Linked DNA regions of Homo sapiens: region 2 is reported to be linked to region 1. The links are microRNA targets in miRTarBase. Many come from high-throughput screens and were not tested one by one. Region 1 holds a microRNA gene; the other region holds the end of a gene's coding sequence.
Evidence for each region. The annotated mature microRNA hsa-miR-1208 reads UCACUGUUCAGACAGGCGGA and lies in region 1 at 6,128-6,147, opposite strand. An mRNA with a match to its seed (bases 2 to 7 or 8) in the 3' UTR can be bound and repressed. Matches are read on the target gene's strand: a 7mer-m8 pairs with bases 2 to 8, a 7mer-A1 pairs with bases 2 to 7 and ends in A, and an 8mer does both.

Region 2: the mRNA of DNAJB13 is a reported target of hsa-miR-1208. The part of its 3' UTR that is shown has no 7-base or 8-base seed match.

What each region holds. Positions count from the first base shown.
Region 1 is chr8:128,144,962-128,156,273 of GRCh38, reverse strand. It overlaps MIR1208 (microRNA 1208), which reads right to left and starts at 6,158; the gene lies at 6,086-6,158. LOC124902020 (a long non-coding RNA gene) reads right to left here and starts at 5,350. Exons shown (of 5, transcript XR_007061107.1): 1 at 5,072-5,350; 2 at 3,457-3,597; 3 at 2,020-3,250; 4 at 855-1,107.
Region 2 is chr11:73,966,604-73,977,915 of GRCh38, reverse strand. DNAJB13 (DnaJ heat shock protein family (Hsp40) member B13) reads right to left here. Exons shown (of 8, transcript NM_153614.4): 6 at 9,458-9,571; 7 at 8,594-8,670; 8 at 7,635-7,955. The coding sequence ends at 7,802. UCP2 (uncoupling protein 2) reads left to right here. Exons shown (of 8, transcript NM_003355.3): 4 at 1-30; 5 at 899-1,093; 6 at 1,174-1,275; 7 at 2,245-2,425; 8 at 2,795-3,244. The coding sequence ends at 2,909. Among named protein-coding and RNA genes, the nearest start is that of UCP2, 11 kb to the left of the region's middle. RefSeq lists enhancers at 3,538-3,627, 7,471-7,630.

The sequences.
Region 1 (11,312 bases):
CGGGCACGGTGGCTCACGCCTGTAATCCCAGCACTTTGGAAGGCCAAGACAGGCGGATCACGAGGTCAGGAGATCGAGACATCTTGACCAACACGGTGAAACCCCGTCTCTACTAAAAATACAAAAAATTAGCCAGGGGTGGTGGTATGCGCCCGTAGTTCCAGCTACTCAGGAGGCTGAGGCAGGAGAATCGCTTGAATCCGGGAGGCGGAGGTTACAGTGAGCCAAGATCGTGCCACTCCACTCCAGCCTGGTAACAGAGCAAGACTCCATCTCAAAAAATAAAAATAAAAATAAAAATAAGCTTCCTGGGATTTTTAGATTTAGAACACTACTTGGGAGCAACGCTTTTAGTCATTAAATTATTGTTTGAGCAGCTACCATGAACAAGCAACTGTCTTGAAAACCATTTTGAGGACACAGTACTGAACCCGAAGGAACTCCTAGTTTGAGGAGGAGACACACGGATAAATAGCAAAAGGGAAGCTATGTGCATGCTGGAGGTGAGCATTCGGTGAGAGGGACATCCCAGGGATGAGCTGTCAGGCAAGGCTGGGAGAAGAGTAGGAGGAGGTTACCTGGGGGAGGTGACACCAGAAGCAAATTTTGAAGAGAGAAGTGTAATACACATTTCACCAATAAGGAATATGGACTCAAAGTTTTAGGTCGCTTGGCTAGGATCACATTCTAGTATGTGGCGGGTCAGGGTCAGGAGCCAAACCCAGCTGTTGGAACATTTCCTTCACACCCCGAAGCCTGTTTATGTTTGTCCTTCTGCATGACAGGTTAGTCGGGGGTTCTGTTCCAGACTCCAGTCTCGTACACGAATGTAATGACATCTACAAAATAAGTACCTTCTAGAGTTGTTGTTGTTGTTAAATGATGGATGTAATTGAATCGTGGTATGATTCAGAAGGCACATCAGGGTCTTCAGGTGTCTCAAGGCCATCCATTCAAGCAGCAGTCATCCAAATATTCTAGGTACGTCAGAATCCTCACTCATCTACATTTCTGGTTGAAAATTGTTTTGTGTATTACAGAGAGACAAGAAGATATCATTTGCCTCTGGATGGAAGTATACACCACCACCTGATGTAGTATTCTTGCCTGAAAATCAAACTTAAATTCAATCAAGGATCTAAGTACCATTTACCAGGAAAACAGTGAACCACAGAGAGGCAATCTGAGAAATCCAGACAGAATGAATAACTCAGTGCAGAACAAACAACTCAGCTTCTTCAATAAATTTAAATTGTGAGGAAAAGTTTGTTATGAGCTAAACTGTGTCCCCTCTTTACAATTAAGATGTTGAAGCCCTAACCCCCAGTACTTCAGAATGTGACTCTGTTTGGAGATAAGGCCTTTAAAGAGGTAACTACGTAAAAATGAGGTCATGTGAGTGGGCTCTAATCCCATATGACTGGTGTCCTTATAAGAAAAGGAGATTAGGGCCGGGTGCGGTGGCTCAAGCCTGTAATCCCAACACTTTGGGAGGTCGAGCAAGGTGGATCATGAGGTCAGGAGTTCGAGACCAGCCTGGCCAGCATGGTGAAACCCCATCTCTACTAAAAAAATACAAAAAATTAGCCAGGCATTGTGGCTCATGCCTGTAGCCCCAGCTACTCCAGAGGCTGAGGCCAGAGAATTGCTTGAACCCTGCAGGCGGAGGTTGCAGTGAGTGGAGATTGCACCATTGCACTCCAGCCTGGGCAACAGAGCGAGTCTCCAACTCAAAAAATAAAATAAAAAAAAAAGAGGAGATTAGGACACAGATGGTCCTACAAAGGACCATGTGAAGGCATACAGAGAAGATGGTAACCCACAAGCCAAGGAAAGAGGCCTCAGAAGAAACCAACACTGCCAACACCTTTATCTCAGACTTCCAGCTTCCAGAACTGTGGGAAAATATTTCTGTTGTGTGAGGCCTCCAGTCTATAATATTTTATTATGGCAGCCCTACTACACTAATATCGGGTTCCTTCTCTTTAGAGCCAATGCTTAGGGCATTATTCAACATACCTTTGCAAACAGCCTCCAGCAACTTCCATCAGCTGGTCTGGTCTTTGGTTACAACTTCTGGCATTATGTAATAAAAAGTCTTATCCTTCTTCCACATTTGAACCCTTTACATGAGGAAAGCTGCCTGCTACTCACAAGACTTCCCTTTTCTGCCCTAAACACCTCAGTTCTCTCACTTGTTCCCAGGCTGCGGCTTCCAGACCCTCCCCAAGCACGGTGCTCTTTAAACATCTGAAGAAGGCCTACACCCTTGAAGGCTCGCCTTGCTCAGGGCTTATGAATTCGCTGTTCCCTTTGCCAGAGACCATCCTGGCCTCAGATATCTGCTGGGCCCACTGCTTTGCTTTGTTTGGGTATCTGCTCAAATGTCACTTCATCAGAAAAATATCCCCTGGCCTTTTCATCCTTCACCCCTTTACTTTGCTGCTTCTCTTTCTATAGCATATATTAGACATTTATACAAATCATTATGGGTTGTCTGTCTCCATCCAATAAACTGCAAGTTCCCTGAGGACAGGTACTCTGTATGCATCCCTGCTGCATCCGCTGCACTGAGGACAGGACCTGTTGTTCTGAAGGGGCTCAACCTGTATTTCTTGGATGAGTGAGTAAATGATAGCTGTTTTTAAAGTGAGGCATTTCAGTTCCAGGTCACAGCAAATATCTTTGCTTATTTCCACCCCTTCCCTTTAAAAAGGCTCAGCAACAAGCCTAAAAGTAGCAGAAGGAAGCTCTGTCAGCGGCCACCCAGCACCCTCAGAATCACTCCCCCCACAAAAAAAAAAAACCGCCAGCCCGCCCAGGCTGCAGCTGGACAGCCCGGAGACACTTCGTGGCCATCTGCAGACCACCGGGCCCGTCAGCCGGCTGGGGAGACAGCAGGAGGCCTCAGGGACACGTGCTTCAGGCAGACGCGCACCCACCCCGAGCACATTCGACTTTCTCCTCAGCAGACGGCTCGTTTGCATCTGCCCATGTGTACCTTGGCTTCCACAGCCTCTGTTTACAAATCTGGGTCAAGGAAGGACAGGAATTCCAACAACACGCGATTTACAGAAGCCGGCCCGCGGCCTGTTCTCATTTTTCCTTGTAAGAAGGCCGTGTGGAGCAGCATTGAGTCACTGGAGTTGGAAGCCACCCAGACCTAGTTGATGTCCAGCTGTCATCTGTGTTTACCATCATTGCAACTTGGGGAAAATAATATGATCTCTGTGAGCCTCTGTTTTCATGCCTTTTAAAAAGAAGATAATGATACAAGCTTATCAGAATTAGAACTGGTATATGAAGAGAGTAGCCCATGGAAATCATTCAATAATTTGATATTATTATTTACATTCCCAAGTAATGCTCTAGTGTGTCCCATCTCAGGCAGAATCCTGGAGTTGTCCTTGATCCCACTTTCTCCCAAAGACAATTGGCCACGGTTCTACCTCTTACTTTATCATGAATTCAGGAAGACTGGCTGTTCCTAGCACAGGCTCAGGAGTTGTCCCCTGTGATGTTGGCCATGTCTCCACCACTTCTGGCTGGGTGATGTTGAGCATGTTATTTATCTTCCATGTGACTTCGTTTTTTAATCTGTAAAATAGAATGACAATGGTAGGTGTGGAGTTAACACTGTTGATTCCCTACTAAAATCTTCTCCCAACACTCTTCTCCATTGCTACCTCTTGTATGGAAACTGAGAAGCCAAGTATCAGAGTTCCTACCCTTCTCTGCATCCAGGGATGTGCTGTGACTCATTCTGGCCCAAGATACAAGCAGAATTCTGCTGATAAGTGTTGACAAAGCTTGAAGGTTAGGTTATAATATCCATGGGAAATGCTTACAGAAAGGACTGCCTAATAGAACAGAGATGCCTGTGGAATGAATGTAGCAAGGTAGACACCAAGGAGGAAACAGAATTCAACGAGAAGAACGAGGTGAGGACCAGGTGCTATGAGAAGATTTCAGGGAGGTGGATGGTGCTGGAAGAAAAGATAGGACCTGGGCAGGGCCTGGACATCCCACACTGCTTTAAGACAATCTCGGAAGCCGCCTGTTCCTTGAAGGGAGCTAGTTAAAGAGTCAGTACAAGGGACCCACCATTCATCATTGAACTGTGAAGTGGTTATAAATTGGTCTCCACATCATCTGGTTTACATGGCGCACATTCCAGTCACCATTAAGTGTGAACGGTGTCTTTCATCTCATACTGTCTGGCAGCCGTCTCACCAGACAGGGCAAAGCTTTGCGGGAAACCCCAGGACATAGGGCTGTGCACAGCAAGGTCCCCTGGGCTGCTCTGCAGTGGCCACAGCCCCACTTGGGGGAACACTCATGTATGATACCCCCTCATGTGCCCTGTCCCAGCTGGAGAGCTGCTGCATTGTGTCCAGGCCCTTGGAGGCATAAAGGTCATGGAGAGATGTCAGGAAAAATTCCAGTGAATGGGTCTGCTATAATCACAGAAACTGCTCCTCACTTTCCTGAATGTCGTGGGTCCCTTCCACCCACCCAGCCACCCCATGGTAGAACCGCTAATATTGGGGAAGAAGCCAGAAAACAAACAGACAGAAAACATTCCCCCGAAAGAGTGGCTCTTAGGTGTCCCAACAAGGTGAGCAATTACGGTCCAGAGAGTGTCCAGATTCTGACTCCCAGCAGGGGTGGTGCTAGCCCCAGCTTGGAAATTGTTCAAATATGTAAAAGGTTATATTATGCTAGGCACTCAGTAGCCCTTTTGAAAACATGTTTTAAATACCTTCAGTGTCTAATTTCTCATAGGCTTAACCTGGAACACAACCACACAAATGTTCTTTCCAAAATGCAAATCAGACTGTGTCACTTTCCTACTCAGAGACTGGTGGCTCTGCCTTAATGATGAAATTGAAGCTCAGCCTGGCAGATGTGTCCACTGTTTCCTCTTTCTCATTTCTCTTTATATGGATGCCCCAAACTCATTTATATTCCTCAGACACACAGTGATACTCCTCCCTGCTTGCTTCTGCACATCATTGCATTCATTCAATAACATACTCATTCATTGAATGAAGATTTATTAAGCACTTACTGCATGCCCATATGTTACTTATTAGGATACAATGATGAATAAGAACAAATGCCTGTCCTCAAAGATCATATCGTCAGGAGTACTCATGCCTGGCAGCACATCAGAATCGTCCACAGGGCTGCTTGAAAGCACAGAGGTTTGGGCTTCATCCTATCTCAGAATGAAAAGAGAGGGAAAGGAAACAGCAAGCAAAAAAATCATAAGAGAATGAGGGGAGCTGATTACAAATTTCTCCTGTTACCTTCCTGACAACCAATTGGGTGAATGGGCTGGGCTGTAGAGCCAAAAAGACTGGTTCAAAACTCAGGCATTTTTATATTCTGGCTTGCTGGGACATTTCCCCTTTGCATCTGTGGCTGTGAAATTATTACTAGTTCTCCCTTTTACTTTCAAAAGTGCCCTGTTTTGGATGATAAGTTCTATAATCACCTTATTCTATAGTCAGTTTTACCCTTTCCTACCCGTGAACACGTGGGGGAAATGGCTGCAACTTTCTGAGCCTCAGTTTCATGGTCTGTATCGTAGAGTGAGCCATACCTACTTGAGAAGGTGTGAGAATTAAATGAGATGATGTTTGCCAAGTGCCTGGCACAGTAGATGTTTAATTCACAGAAGCTGTTGTTATTGTTTGCCTTGTAGAAAGTGGTTTTCATCTGGTCTGCATTTTTCACTGTCAAATGAAACGAGACCTCAACGATGAGAACATTGAGATGAAGCACAGAGCATTTATATCGGTGGAGAGGATGGCCTGGGTCAGCAAGACATTACTTGGGTAGTCACTGGCCAGGGTGACAAGCCTGTCTTAAGAATCTCTGTTACAATATTAAAACTTCAGCTCAATGGCCTAGAAAGCTTAACTTTACTACCCTCCTTGTTGGTTTAAATTTCTATAGCATTAGGTCAAATGCCAGCAATGGGCCCAGAAGGAGGGAACCGCAGTCTATTTTGATGTCCAGGGTCAGGCTGAGGAGAGAGACTGACACATTATCTGTCTGGCTGACTGTCCACTCCCCCCCACCACAGTGGTGACTCATCAGAGGGCGAGAAAGACCCGTCTCCGCCTGTCTGAACAGTGATTCTGCCGGTGATTCATTGTTGCCCACCAGAAAGCCCCCTTCTTAATGTCCTCTTTCTGAGCTCTTCAATTAGCATTTGAGGCCAAAGGATATTTAGAGGGAAGGGAGGGTAGAAAGATCCGCCAGTCGGACCGAGTGTGGCTTCACTCAGTGGCAGTGGGACACAGGGAGGGAGAAGAGGAAGTGCTGGGTACGGCTTGCTCCCAGAGTAGGAACTTGGAAACAGCTAGAGAAAAAATATATATATAATAAATGGTGAATATTTATAACATTGCAGAGGTCCTTAGGGGTGAAGGAATCTCACCAAAGACAGGAAGAAGGGCCAAAACTTTATAGAAATTAGAAATCTTTTTGGATGACATTGCATGAAGCTTGCTATGTGAATGGATTGTTTAAAAGTCTAAGGTATGTCAAACTGAAGATAAAGTGGATCAACATGAAGAGAATATTTGTAGTCTAGGATAAAAGGAAGACTAAGGCAGGACTTATCCAGTGCTGTTCTAGAAAGACAGTTACTGAGGCTGGTAGATATTCAAGTCTCCAGAATTATCCATAAGTTCTCTAGTATGGGCCTAAAAGTGATTAGTTTTCCCAAAGTGTGATAGGTAAAATTAGTAACATATATACACATAAAGAAAAATTCTTTTAGGAGTAATCTGTGCATTCATACCACTTGTACATCAAACCAAGATTATCACATGTATTTTTCTTTGAACACAATTAAGTAAAAATATGCAAACTTTTTCTTTCTCCAGACATGCCAAGCTTCAGCTGAAACTCAAGCCTCATGCAGTTTTCTCTGCTTGGAATGTTCTCTGCCCAGCCTTCACCTGCCCAGCTTCTTGTCCTACAGGTCTCAAGTCAAATGCCTTCTTCTCAGTGAAGACTTCCCTGGCCACCTTGTCAACATAAATGTCATCTGGTTATTCTCTCTCCAGCCTGTGGCCTATTTTTTCTAAAGAACTTTTCAGAATCTCATCCATATCTTGGTTTACTTGTTTGTAACCAGTGTCTCTCCTCCAGAATGTAAGCTCCAGGAGAGCAGCACTTCCTCCTTGATGTTATTCCTGCTTCAATCCTTAGCGTCTAGCCCAGTGCTTAATACAGATTTGTTGAATAAAGATCCATTAAAGTGAATTATGGACTTAATAATGCCATTCTTGCATTGGGGAAAAAAAATTGTGGAGTTGTAGTAAGGACATGGAGAACCTGGACATGGCCATAGGAAAGTGTAAAATGTTTGGTGATAATTATACTTTTCCCCCTCAAATGAGCCACAGACCTGAGAGTTAGGTAGGGATGAACTGTTTTCCCATGCTGGTAAATATGAATTAGAACACATGGCTTAGAAATGAGTCAAAAACAGGTTTCCCACTCCTGCCTCTTCTGATAGAGATGACTTACTCAGTTACAGCTAGAAAACTTCAAGCTTCTCTCTTTCGTTTCCTCCCTCCTTCTCTTTCCCACCCCTCCTATCACCCTGACTCAGGGAAAGGGCTGTCCCAGGGGACTGACCTTACAGAAGAGGTAGAAGCTGAGAGAACACCTGTGACTCTGAAAGCCATTCTTTCATGGGGAAGAGCAGACTAGGATAGAAGCTTCCTCCAAAGCTCTTCTGAGATTAAAATTTCTATATGGAAGTGAGCTAATGCAGGAATGGGTGGAAGTAAAATGGATTTCCCTAGAGTAAATATCATGGTCATGCATGTGTCATGGGAGAAAAGGGAAGCTGAGGACCACTGTAAACCACCATCAGTTCCCAGAGATCCGGGATTATGTCTTCAACTACTATTCAGAGACCACTGATCCTAGCATGTATTTTGTGCCTGGCACACAGTAGTGGTCAATCAGTGTGTGCCTAACAGTGTGCTCCGAAGGAATGGAAGACTATATGAATGATTGACTATATGAGTGATTGAGTGAATAAAATATGCATTATACTTCTGCCTCTTACAAATCTAGTTAATGTGAGTCTAATCTTAAACCCTGCTCACCTTAGAATACAGAATAAAAAATATATTTTTTAGACACACAAGGCTGAAAACGAGAATCTGGACAGAAGTGACCCCACTAATTTCTGGCAATGTTGTAAACCCTCTTGGGACACCTTTTAGCCCCAAGTAATCTGGGGATCTTACAGTGGGTAGTTCACATAACCTGTGATGAACCAATAAGCCATCTCTGCCTGCATTCAGTCTCTTGAGGAGAGGTTCTTAACTTAGGTCCATGAACTCTTCAAGGATCAGAATGCAGACACCTGGAGGCCTGGGAAGAAAAAGGAAAAAATACAGCTTGATTTGCACTCACCTGTAATTGAAATTTAGTATTTCTATCACTTGTGTATGTAGACAACACACAGTTTATTAGCAATAGCTGTGATTTTTGTCATCCACAGAAATGACAGATAATTTCATATCATATGTCAGCTGTGGCAGAGATCATGAAATATTGCCCTCGTGTCTATTTCAAAGTTACATTAGTTACTGAACTTCTGCTAGATCTTCTTTGATGCCTTCAAATAGCATATAGAGCACTTGTGGTACTCAGGCTTCTAAGATGACCTTCAATGACTCCACCTTCTGGCTTTCACAACTCATTTTCAGCTCTCCCTTGAGAGTGAGCTGAACCTAGTGACTTGCTTCTCATGGATAGAATAGGGCAAAGATGAGGAGGTGTCACATCCACGAGGAGATTATAAAAGATTATGACTTTGGTCTTGCTCACACTCACTTTCCCTCTTACCTCCTCACTCTGACAGAGCCAGAGGCCACGTTGTGAGCTGTCCACAGAGAGGCCCACATAGCAAGAAACTGAGGGCAGCTTCTGGCCAAGAATCAGTGAGGAAATGAGGCCCTCAGTTAGACATCTTGTGAGAAACCAAATTCTGCCCACAAGCCTGTGAGTGAGCTTGGAAGCAGGCTCATCCCTAGGCCATCTCAAGATGACTACAGCTCTGGCAGACACCTGAATTGCAGCCTCATGAGAGATCTCAAGCAAAAGGACCCAATTAAGCCACGCCCAGGCCCCTGACCTGCAGAGACTGGGAGATAATAAATGCCTGTTGCTCTAATACACTTTTTGTTGCTCAGCAATGGATAACTAATATCATTTGTGTGTGTGTGCATGTGCGTGTACTGTTCCATAACAGTTTTTTGCTATAATTAGTTTCCTTTGAAATCCCATGTATCTTTATTTAATTCATTTAAAGTCATTATTCTGAGAAGAGATCATAGGCTTCACCAATCTGCCAAGGAGGTCTATGCCACCCAGAAGAGCCCCTGCCCCAGACTCTGTTTTGAAGAAGACATGGGTTCTTGGAAAAGGGATTATATATCATTATTATTATATAAAGGGTATATATATATATATATATATGTGTGTGTGTGTGTATGTGCATGTGCGTGCATGTACAAATACCACATTTTCTTGAGTTGGAGGTGGTGAAGTGGAGTTTGGTCCAGCTGATGGTTGCTCCCCTGAGGTTGGAGCAGTAGATTCTCATCCAGACAGCAAGAGACACCAAAGGGAAAGAAGAGAGCAGAGAATCTGTGTGGCAAGTTTGAGCCCAAAGTCTGAAGAGTGACAGAGCAATGGGGCAGATAGAGAAGACAGGGATAGAGCCAGGAATGTCAGAGTTTGGGGAAAAAGAGGCAACCTGAACTGCAGTAAAACAGGGGTCCTGAGAAAATTCTGTATCCCCAAGTGATTTGGCCTGATTAAATTAAAAGCCTGGATCAGCAAAGAGAATGTCATCTCCCCTCCCATTTAGAGTAGAAATCCCTTGCTGTGTGACAGGCATTTAGGCACTGCTTTCTTGCACCTGTTACCAAAGTCTGCCCGCCCACCTAAATGGTAAGCTCCTTGGGGGCAAGGCCCATGTGTTCTTGTTTCCTTTTAATTCCAGAGATCTACTGCAGCATATATGTTCACACATCAAATATCTGCTCAGAGACAGTGCTGGGCCTGGGAAACAGAGATGAATTAAGTTCAGTCTATCTTGAGTTGATTATGGCCTAAAGAGGGAGACAGATCAATACAGGCATTGACATTAAAGAGCTTCAGTTCAAATGTGAACTGCATTTCTGACCTCCAACCCTTGACTTTACATCTGTTAAAGAAAGGTATAACACTCATCTTGCTGGTTTGTGGAACATTAAATGAAATAATATACTTCCAGAGCCTTACATAAGGCCTGACATGGGGCAGACACCTCTACCTTGCTTCTGATTCTCACACCATTTCCAGTCTTATGATCACAAGGCCACAAGTGTTTATGTGAGATCAAATTCCTGTGTAAAAGCTGTGGCAGACTTCTAAAGACAAGTCCTTCTCCCAACAAGCTTTCCTTCTCACTGCAAGATAATGTTCACCCACATGCCATGTTCTGTGAGCTCTTGGAAGCAGAGACCATGTGGGACTCATTTTTGCAACCCCAGCAAGTAGAAGAGTGCTGCATCAAAGGAGGGTCTGTTCAGCACAGGTTGAATGAATGACTAGGATGATAAATAATAAATCACAATAAGCTCTCCAAAATCGAATGCAATAATGTCATGCAGGAAAGGTCATCATGAGCTGGAGGACAGGGGCCTTGACCTGGCTCTTTCAAATGTGGAGGATTTAGTTGAATGCAAGATAACTGGGGTAGAGAAAAGAGGGAGATAGTGAAGGCCCACAGTCACCTCTGGAGAGGAAGGAGAAATATTGACGAGGAGGTGTGTAAAAAAGCTACAGCGGCCTCTGCCAAGTTTCATTTTAAAAGAGAAAAGATCAGAAGTAACTGTGGCAAATGTCAACATGTGTTAAATGTGAGTGGTAGGTGCAAAGGTGATTAGTATATTCCCTATGCTTCTTGCTATGTTGAAAATATTTCATGACAAGAGAGGAAAAAGGATTTTAGGTGGGAAAAATGCCACAGGCAGGTGCAGAGAAGTCAGGAGACATGTGGCAAATACAGAACAGGAAGCCTTGAGGTAGACTTCTTACTCAGGTCCTACAGGCCAAGTCCCAAGTGCGGGGCAAGGGAGCAAGCTTCGTGCTGTCCTTGGTCCTGAACCAAAACCATACCCTTGAGCATTGCTATTTCTAGTTAAAAAGCAATGGGTTCCTGCCTAATCCCCCCAGTGCTCAGAGGTTTCCTTAGTATTCTTTAACTTAATTTTTTAACT
Region 2 (11,312 bases), not on the chromosome of region 1:
TCAAACAGTTCTACACCAAGGGCTCTGAGCGTGAGTATGGAGCAAGGGTGTAGGCCCCTTGGCCCTTTTTTCTCAGTGATGATTGATCTTAGTTCATTCAGCCATATAGTTTTTTAGGCCCCACGATCCCTAGGAAGATCAGGGGAACAGAGAACTGGAAGGGGCCCTGGTCCTCCACATAGTTCCTAAGCACCTGGGCTATACCAGGCTCTGAGCAGGGCGTCATCCCATCACAGTCTTCAACACCACCTTGGGAGTAGGTAGTATCATCCCAGTGTTATAGAAGAAGAGACTGAGGTGGGAAGGCAGTGGGTAGAGTGGGGACTTGGCCAGGGGCACACAGTAGAGAGCCAGAAAACACACAGTAGAGAGCCAGGACACTCGTCTCTAAGGCCAGCGTTCTTCCCTTTCACCTCCTTAGTATGCCATGCCAACCCTCCATTTTACACATGACGAAACAGAGCCCCAGACAAAAGGTTGTCTTTCCCAGATCACATGGCAGGAAGAAGTAAAGCTGACCTGAGATCCCAAGTCTTAGGAATCCCAGTCCTCAGAAAGCCACTTCTCTCTGAGCCTTGGTTTTCACATTTGTCAGATGGAAATGATTGTGATTTCTCAGGGCTGTTGAGCAGGTAAATGAAAATGTTTTATGAAAGAAAGCACCAAGTTTCATTTTGGTCTTAGCCCTTGCTATGTCCCTAGCAAGAAGTAGATATTCATAGGGATATTTTGTTTGATGTGAGGAGTTCTTACAGCAAGAGCTTGTAGAAGGCCAAAAGCTTCTGGATTCTATTCCCAAAAGCAGGAGATGACAGTGACAGGGTGGTTTTGGTGAGGAGAGATGAGGTAGAAAATGAGTGCAAGCCCGCTGGCCACTGACCCCATGGCTCGCCCACAGATGCCAGCATTGGGAGCCGCCTCCTAGCAGGCAGCACCACAGGTGCCCTGGCTGTGGCTGTGGCCCAGCCCACGGATGTGGTAAAGGTCCGATTCCAAGCTCAGGCCCGGGCTGGAGGTGGTCGGAGATACCAAAGCACCGTCAATGCCTACAAGACCATTGCCCGAGAGGAAGGGTTCCGGGGCCTCTGGAAAGGTGTGTACCAGTTGTTTTCCCTTCCCCTTTTCCTCCTCCCCGATACTCTGGTCTCACCCAGGATCTTCCTCCTCCTACAGGGACCTCTCCCAATGTTGCTCGTAATGCCATTGTCAACTGTGCTGAGCTGGTGACCTATGACCTCATCAAGGATGCCCTCCTGAAAGCCAACCTCATGACAGGTGAGTCATGAGGTAGACGGTGCTGGGTCTCACCCTTCCCCCATGCCAGGAGCAGGTGCGGGGGTCTAGCTGACACCAGAAGACCACATCTTTTCATCCTATTTGCCCTTTGCAGGGAGAGTAAGATATCTCTTACTTGCCATATTGAAGCCAATTGGGATGAAGCTCCCACTTTGCACATTGAGGAACTGAGGCTAGATTGGCAAAATGACTCTTTCAGGTCCTCAGAAGATGTCTCAGCTGGAGTCCCTGTCTGTTTTTGTTTTTTTGTTTGTTTGTTTTTTGTTTTTTTTGAGATAGAGTCTCACTCTGTTACCCGTGTAATCTCAGCTCACTGCAACCTTCTCCTCCTGGGTTCAAGCGATTCTTGTGCCTCAGCCTCCCGAGTAGCTGGGATGACAGGTGTGCACCAGCACACTGGCTAATTTTTGTATTTTTAGTAGAGATGGAGTTTCACCATGTTAGCCAGGCTGGTCTCGAACTCCTGGCCTCAAGTGATCTGCCCACCTTGGCCTCCCAATGTGCTGGGATTACAGGTGTGAGCCTCTGCGCCCCATCCTCTTGTTTGTTTTTTGAGACAGGGTCTTGCTCGGTTGCCCAGGCTGGAGTGCAGTGGGGTGATTAATGGCTCATTGCAGCCTCGACCTCCCTGACTCAAGCAATCCTCCCACCTCAGCCTCCTGAGTAGCTGGGGCTGACTACAGGCATGCACACTGTGCCTGGCTAATTTTTGTATTTTGTAGAGACAGGGTTTTTGCCATGTTACCCAGTCTGGTCTTGAACTCCTGGGCTCAAGTGATCCACCCACCTCGGCCTCCAAAAGAAGTCCTGGATTACAGGCATGAGACATTGTGCCCAGCCTCTCTGTCTCTTTAAAATCATGAAAACTCGTAGCTACTTAAGTAATTCTCCTGCCTTCTGGAATGATGGGTGAAGATCTTGACTGCCTTGCCTGCTCCTCCTTGGCAGATGACCTCCCTTGCCACTTCACTTCTGCCTTTGGGGCAGGCTTCTGCACCACTGTCATCGCCTCCCCTGTAGACGTGGTCAAGACGAGATACATGAACTCTGCCCTGGGCCAGTACAGTAGCGCTGGCCACTGTGCCCTTACCATGCTCCAGAAGGAGGGGCCCCGAGCCTTCTACAAAGGGTGAGCCTCTGGTCCTCCCCACCCAGTTCAGGCCTCTTGGCTATGCATGTCTATTGTGGGTGGGAGAGAACCACCTGGAAGTGAGTAGCAGCCAAGTGTGACTATTTCTGATCCTGGTCCTGGCATTTCACCAGCATTCACCTATCCCCTTAATTCCTTCCTCCCAGAATTGCTACCATCACTGTTTATTAGGTGTTAAATGGAGACTCAAAGGGAATTCATGCTTATAGCCAAGCAGCTGTGAGCTCAGTTCATTGAGTCCTCCCAGCCTCCTTTGGGACAGAGCAACTGGGTTGGATTGAATACCAGGCCCAGTGAGGGAAGTGGGAGGTGGAGGTGCCCCCATGACCTGTGATTTTTCTCCTCTAGGTTCATGCCCTCCTTTCTCCGCTTGGGTTCCTGGAACGTGGTGATGTTCGTCACCTATGAGCAGCTGAAACGAGCCCTCATGGCTGCCTGCACTTCCCGAGAGGCTCCCTTCTGAGCCTCTCCTGCTGCTGACCTGATCACCTCTGGCTTTGTCTCTAGCCGGGCCATGCTTTCCTTTTCTTCCTTCTTTCTCTTCCCTCCTTCCCTTCTCTCCTTCCCTCTTTCCCCACCTCTTCCTTCCGCTCCTTTACCTACCACCTTCCCTCTTTCTACATTCTCATCTACTCATTGTCTCAGTGCTGGTGGAGTTGACATTTGACAGTGTGGGAGGCCTCGTACCAGCCAGGATCCCAAGCGTCCCGTCCCTTGGAAAGTTCAGCCAGAATCTTCGTCCTGCCCCCGACAGCCCAGCCTAGCCCACTTGTCATCCATAAAGCAAGCTCAACCTTGGCGTCTCCTCCCTCTCTTGTAGCTCTTACCAGAGGTCTTGGTCCAATGGCCTTTTTGGTACCTGGTGGGCAGGGGAGGAACCACCTGACTTTGAAAATGGGTGTGATCCACCTTCCACCTCCAGCATCCAATCTGAAGCCCGTGTAGGTCATCTGGTCCATTTCTCTCTAGACCCAGGCCCTGTACTAACATGGGGAGTGCAGGAGCCACCTGAGAGACAGCAGTGCCTCCCCTTCCTTTGCCGGGCCACTTGAGCTCTTACTCAGAATCTGGTACTCTAGTGCCTGCCATCCCAACCCCCCACCCCAGCCGCAGGCCTGTTTATCTGCACAACAAGAGTGCTCCTGTGTGCCCTGCATCTCCTGCAGTTCCAGAGGAACATGAGACTCTTAGATGCTGTTGACTTTATTTTATTCCATTTTACAAATGGAAGGAAGACCCACCTCCCCCAAAGTCCCAGACCTTGTGAGAACAAGTCAGTCAGCCTCCTTCCACCCTCCACAGCCACAGCCACACCCACAGAGGAAATGTTACTGAACTGGGTGGAGCAGGCCCTGACTCCACAGAGGGTGGGTGGAGGCTGCAGGGCAAACATCTGGTCTCTGCCTGAGGATACTTTCCATTTGTGTTTTTTGTTGTTTTGAGACAGAGTCTCACTTGCTGTCACCCAGGCTGGAGTGCAGTGGTGCAATCTTGGCTCACTGCAACCTCTCCCAGGTTCAGGCGATTCTCCTGCCTCAGCCTCCCAAGTAGCTGGGATTACAGGCATACACCATCATACCTGGCTAATTTTTGTGTTTTTGGTAGAAACGGGGTTTTGCCATGTTGGCCAGGCTGGTCTCAAACTCCTGACCTCAAGTGATCCACCTACCTCAGCCTCCCAAAGTGCTGGGATTACAGGCATGAGCCACTGTGCCTGGCCAGGATATTTTCCATTTGGAGTCTCACCACCACAACCCCCCTCCACCTGCCCCTGCCCCAGCTAGGCATCCAAGGAGGCCGCAAGAAGCCAGGGCCTTGGCTGCACAGGGGTCTCCGCTTCTCTGTCCCTGTTCTTATCACCTGCACTCAGAGGCAGGTGGGCAGGGGTACTACAATTTCAAGGAGTGGAGACTGTGAGGTCCTGGAATCCCAAGGCATCTCCTGTAGGGCTGGGCCCTTAGAATTATGTCACTCAGACCCAGTTTGTAGGTGTCTGAAGAAACTGAGGCCTGACACAGGTGATGCAGGCAAGAACACCCAGAAAGTCCACTACTGAACTGGGACCGGGACCCAGTCCTCCTTCCCCTTGTGGACTCCCCCAGAGACCAGTGCTGGGGTCCTTGGGGAAGCCTGTTTGGCAGCTGTGGAGCTAGGCCCTGAGAACACGACCACCCTCCCTCTTCCCTCAGCCTCAAGCCGCTGAAGCCACTGCTGCTTCGCCGCCTCGTAAGCCCAATGGTCAGAGCTGGAGGCTAGACCCTTCAGTGCTTGGGTTGAGGGCCAGGGTGTTAGATTGGTTTTTGGAGAAGGAACGAGGGCCCAGGATTCTTCAGCTTCTTAGTTTTTGACAAATTGAGCTGAGGCCCCATAGTCCTCGGGAGGGACAGGGTTGAGTGCCATAAGTCGGCAAACCAGGGTAAAGGTGACAGGCAGCTCAGCCAGGCTGCAGGGGGTGGCATATACAGAGGACCTGGCCACTACTTTATGTACCTTCTTACACTAATTCTGTGAGGCAGGCTGTTTGTTAGCTCTGCTCTGGACGGGAAGAAGTAGGGGCAGTTTGGTAGGTGTGTGTCAAAGCTAAACAGGCTGGGTGGGCATGAGCAAGTCAGCTGGTTCATTCAGCAGCCTTAATAGACACGAGGCTACCCAACTTCACTGTGGTTCTGGGTGTGGCCTTAGGACAATGAGCTGGGAACAGTGGTAGGAACCACTGGAAAACATACCAGTGGGTCTCATTCATTCTGATCACAGGTAGATCACTTCTCTTTGGTTCCCAACCCTTTAATGCCTATTAAGTGGGCAGATGATAAGCCCTGCTTTGCCTAATTCAAGGTAACACTGAAGATCACTAAGGTAATAGGAATCTCCTAAGGGACTTTCAGGCCCAAGACCCAGGCTTCCTTCAAGATAAGGAGTAGGCTTTCCTGCTGCCCTACAGGAGACCTAGAGTTGAAGAATTTCACAGCCCTGCCTCTGCACTCCAATTCAGGGCTTGCCCTCAGAACAGGGCAGCTCTCACCATCCCACTCCACCTGAGTCCTGCCCCAGAGCATTTCATGCCTCACCATCTGGTTTCCATGAAAGGCCTGCAAGGTAGGGGCTGTAAGCTTTAAGAAACGGGTTCAGAGAGGTGAAGTGATTTGCCCAAAGGCACACAGCTGGCTAGTAGCACACTGGGGATCCAGAACAGGTGTGTCTGACTCCAAAGCCCACATGCTTTTAACTACTATGCTGAAATGCTTCCTGGAGCCCTGGTCCCAGAGTCTTCACCTCAAGGTCTTTGGGTAGCTGACTTCATGGTGATTTTTTTTTTAATTTTAAGATGGCGTCTCTTCTGTCGTGCAGGCTGGAGTGCAGTGGCAAGATCTCAGCTCACTGCAACCTCTGCCTCCTGGGTTCAAGTGATTCTCCTGCCTCAGCCTGCCAAGTAGCTGGGATTACAAGTGCATGCCACCATGCCCGGCTAATTTTTGTATTTTTAGTAGAGACAAAGTTTCACCATGTTGCCCAGGCTGGTCTTGAACTCCTGACCTTGTGATCCACCCGCCTCGGCCTCCCAAAGTGCTGGGATTACAGGCATGAGCCACCGCGCCCAGCCCATGGTGATTTTTTTAATGACAAAAGTGCTACTGAACCCCCGTTTTAAAAAAAAAACCTTAAGCTGATGTGATTTGAATGGTGGAGTCCCAAGCAATCTGGAGAACATGGGGCCTTTTCTGGCACCTCTGAAGGCATTCCATGGAATTGGCTACCTACTCCCCGTAAGCCTGGATCTATCCTCACCCAAGCTCAGACTCTAGAAGGGAACCTCCCTGGCATGGAAGGGGAGCATAACACACGTGTTGACTATGAGGAGGCAAGTGTGGTCTACGCAGGCCCAGTTGGACCTGGATGCTGGAACTCCAGGCCTTGAGGGCAGCAGTGCTGTTACCCCTTCCTGAATCTAAGCAGTGAGTTCACCAAGCACTTTCACATCAATGTTCTCTGTCCTCACAACATGCCCGTGAGGGGGGTTATGGGCTCTGCTTTACTGACAAGACAGGTGTGGTGACTGGTCCCAGGAGAAAGTGGCAGGGCTGGGGTCAGAACTCAGGTTTCCTGCCTCCCAGATCACCCTGCCCAGGACCCTATCACAGACCAGGGGATTGAGGCCAGAGAGGTAGAACCAAAGCTGTTTCCAGTGCACATGTGTTCTTTATGCTGCTTCTCTACGCAGGGCGAGTCTGTGGGAAGTGACCTTCAAGGTTTTTGGGGGTTTTTTTTGTTTTTTGTTTGAGACAGAGTCTTGCTCTGTCACCCAGGCTGGAGTGCAGTGGCGCAGTCTCGGCTCACTGCAACCTCCACCTCCTGGATTCAAGTGATTCGCCTGCCTCAGCCTGCCGAGTAGCTGGGATTACAGGCCCTCGCCACCATGCCCAGCTAATTTTTGTATTTTTAGTAGAAACGGGTTTTCACCATGTTGGCCAGGCTAGTCTTGAACTCCTGACCTCAGGTGATCCACCTGCCTCGGCCTCCCAAAGTGCTGGGATTACAAGCATAAGCCACCACACCCGGCCTTTCTAGTTTTTTTGAGATGGAATTTCACTTTCGCCCAGGCTGGAGTGCAGTGGTGCAATCTCAGCTCACTGTAACTCTGCCTCCCAGGTTCAAGCAATTCTCCTGCCTCAACCTTTGGAGTAGCTGGGATTACAGGTGCCCACCATCACACCTGGCTAATTTTTGTATTTAGTAGAGACGAGGTTTCACTATGTTGGCCATGCTGGTCTCGAACTCCTGACCTCAAGTGATCCGCCCACCTTGGCCTCCCAAAGTCCAGGCATGAGCCACCGCACCCAGCCACCTTCAAGGTTCTGATGACAGCTTTGCCACTGAGGCCTGAGTGACCTGCAATGAATGTTTTCTTTTGTGCTTTAGTTTTCCTGTCTCTAACGTGACCATATCATGCTCCAGAGATTGTCTCTTCTGTCATGAAAAGCCAGAGCAGAGCTAGAGACCCTCAGAGGCCACACAGCCCTGCCCCACTCTATCAAAGTGGAAGCACAGAGGATCTGAACCCTTACCTGCCCTTTCCCACAAAGCCAGGACAGGGACTCAGGCACTCAGCTCCTTAGGCCTCTTTCTTCCCTGTGCCCCACAAGAAGGGCTAATATGAAGCTCCTCTCCAATGTACTCTCGTGGGTGTAGCTGGAGGACAGGAAATAGATCTTTATTATGTCAGTTTAAGCCCTGCGCCATCCCACCCTTGTATCATATCTGTGCAGCAGGCTCCCCTGCACACCCTGAGGCTGTGGCGGGTAGGGGTGGGGTGAGGCCCGGCTAGCCTCCTCTCACCCCTGCTCCAGCCCACCACAGTCATGTCAGCAATGCCTGGCGCAGCATCTGCTTCTTCTGGGGTGTGAGGCGGGTGGGGAACTGGATGTCGAAGAAGATGAAGAGATCCCCTTTCTTAGTGGGGTCCTCCGGCAATGGCATCCCCTCCCCTGGCACCTTCTTGAAGTATTTGGGGCTGAAATAGGATGAAAGAAAGGAGCATAGAGGGCATCCCAGAGCAGCACCTCAGCAGGTCCCTGTCATATAACCCCTACTCACATAACCCCAGGAAGGGGACAGTCACTGCAGTCTTCACCTGGAGTGGTTCTTAGCCAGAACTGGTTGGGAAAGGAGCTCCCTGAAAACCTGTTTACACTGAGTCTCTGATGGAGGATTCCAGAAACTTTGTTTAAGACATGGGAAACGGGAAGTAAAGGTGAGCAAACCCTGGGGTGAGGGCGAGGGTGCTGGGCTGCCAGGCAAACCTCCTCACGGGCAGAGGGCCTTTCTTGGAAAAGGACTTAGGATATGCAACTCAGAACTCTAATGAGAAGTTTGCAGGGCATGGAGGCTACAGGGTTGCCCAACAATGGGGGCCTCTAGCCTCTGCAGTGGCTTTGTGTGGATTAGAAAAAGATGTTCCTTTTGCCAGGTGATTGCAGCCCACAGCTTGGCCAGTGTGGGTTCAGTTTTGGTCCTCTCTATCCCCTCAGCAGGGAACCCTTCTGCTGGGGGCAGCCTGTACAACTCTACTGGGCAGACCTGTCACACTACCACCTAAATCCCAGGCTAGCCCTTCTCTTGGCTACTGGGGCCCAAGGCAGATGGACTCACTGGATGATGTCATTGATGGGGATGTTGAGCAGACGGTCATCTAGGGTCCTCACCTCCACAGTGCAGCAGGTGAGAGCCTAGGGAGGGTCAGGGCCAAAGGTGGGGCTGAGGAGGGTCACCATGGCTCTCCTATTTAGAAGGCACCTTAGGAACCTGTCCAGTGCCAGACTGTGAGTTGGGCACAAGGGAGACGAGGCTGTTCAATAACTAATAGGTGAATGACCCATGCAATTTTCTGCACTGGCAGGAAAGATGGATGGATCTGGCAGGTAAGATGGATGTTGTATAAATGTAATGATGGAGACAGAATAAAAGCGTTTGTGGGAGCCAAGGAGAGGCCCCTAAACCATTCAGGAGTGGGGCAGGAAGTGGTAGCAGTGGTGGTAGCTATTGATGAGGACCCTATAGGGTCAGGTGAATAGACAGCATTCCAGGGAGAGGGCCCAGCAGAAATGAGAACGGAGGTGTGACAATGCGCCACACAGGCAGGGTGCTATGCGGCGAAGGGGCGGGAGTGCAGGGGAAGGAGTAAGCAGGGAGCAGATCGCAGAGGGCCTCCAGTGGCACAAAGATGTTTAGACAGGAGTGTGGCAGGGTCTGATGAGTGTGTGGCAGGATCCCTAAGGAGAAGAGCCTGGAGGAGATGAGAAGTGGGGAGGAAGGCCTGCTGCGCAGATCTGGTGTACAGATCCAGGCGGTGCAGATGAGCAGACGGGACCAAGTGGATGGTGATTTAGAGGGTGGAATCCACAGGGCTTAGTGACTGATGGCAGGTGGTTGTGGGAGGGGAGGCCAAGTCTAGGCCGGGGCAGGCAGGGCTCACTCTGATCTCCTCCCCGCTGCTCCTGCACTTTGCCCACTCACCTTGCCAAGAGGGATGGGGTTCACGAAGAAGAGGTTGTCATTCTCCCTGCGGAAGCGAGGGTGTAGCTTCTCCTTTACGATGAAAATGATGTCTGCTGGGATGATGTTGGGGCCCTGGGCAGGGGACGCCAAAAGGTGACAAGGACTAGTTGGCCGTGTGACCTTGGCCAAGTTCCTGCCTCTACTTGTCTCCATGTCTTCATCTGTACAATGGGGAGATGAGAGCAGGTTTTCTGGAAGGGCCTTTTCAGTTTGGCCCCCATAGCCCAGATGGATTAGAAGCCCGAGAAGCTTACCCAAATGAATCCCCCCAGAATTACTTCTGTACTGAGCATGCCCAAAATAGACACACTCAGCTGGAGGGGCGGAGAGGCTTCCTCAGACGGCAGGCAGGTGGAACACTAAGCTGGGCGTCAGGCAACTGCCCGTATGTCTCTGTCTTGCTAGTAACTCCAGGCATGACACCCCTGTCCCAAACTTCATTAAGTCACCAAAACTCTGCTGAGGTCTCTTCTGGGCGCTGGGGACAGAGGAATCAGACTGGCCCCTAACACTGACAGTGAATCCTCAGCACGCTCAAGACATGATAAAGGGAGGCCCAGAGGCTGGGGCTCAGAGGAGGCTGCCCAGAGCGGGGAACACTGGAGCTGGGTTTTGAAGCGTGTTTATTCGAAGTAGATGTTTTATTTGTATTTTGTCTGTTTGTTTTGTTTTTAGACAGGATCTCGCTCTGTTGCCCAGGCTGAAGTGCAGTGGCATGATCATACTTCACTGCAGCCTTGACCTCCTCGGCTCAAAAGATCCTCCTGCCTCAGTCTCCTGAGTATCTGGGACCACAGGCACACACTACCATGCCCAGCTAAATTTTTTATTTTTAGTAGAGACAAGGTCTCGCTATGTTGCCCAGACTGGTCTCAAACTTCTGAGCTCAAGTGATTCTCCTGCCTTGGCCTCCCAAAGTGCTGAGGCTATAAGTGTGAGCCACCAGGCCAGACCGGAGGTAGATGTTTCATAGGTGAGAAAGGGGGCAAAAAGTGCAGGCAAAGGAATGTGTCTTCCCTGGCTCTGAATGCCTCTTCTCAGGACTTAAGGATTCAGCACGCCTTGGACAATAAATTTATGTTTTTATTTAAATAGTATTTAATTTAAAATTATTATTAATAGGCCAGGCACGGTGGCTCACACCTTTAATCCCAGGCACTTTGGGAGGCCGAGGCAGGCGTATCACCTGAGGTCAGGATTTCGAGGCCAGTCTGGCCAACACGGAGAAACCCTATCTCTATAAAAATACAAAAATTAGCTGGGTGGCTGGGCGCAGTGGCTCACGCCTGTAATCCCAGCACTTTGGGAGGCCGAGACAGGTGGATCACCTGAGGTCAGGAGTTCAAGACCAGCCTGGCCAACATGGTGAAACCCCGTCTCTACTAAAAATACAAAAATTAGTCGGGTGTGGTGGTGCATGCCTGCAATCCCAGCTACTGGGGAAGCTGAGGCAGCAGAATAACTTGAACCCGGGAGGCGGAGTTTGCAGTGAGCTGAGATCGCACCACTGCCTTCCAGCCTGGGTAACAGAGCGAGACTCTGTCTCAAAAAAAAAAAAAAAAAAAAAAAAATTAGCTGGGCGTGGTGGCACATGCCTGTAGTCCCAGCTACTCAGGAGGCTGGGGCAGGATAATTGCTTGAATCCAGGAGGTGGAGGCTGCAATGAGCTGAAATCATGCCACCTCACTCCAGCCTGGGCGACAGTGAGACTCCATCTCAAAATAAAAATAAATAAATAAATAAATACATAAATAAATAAAATTATTATGATTAAATGGTTTCTGAGTAGCTCCTGTAATTGGGCTTTATTCTG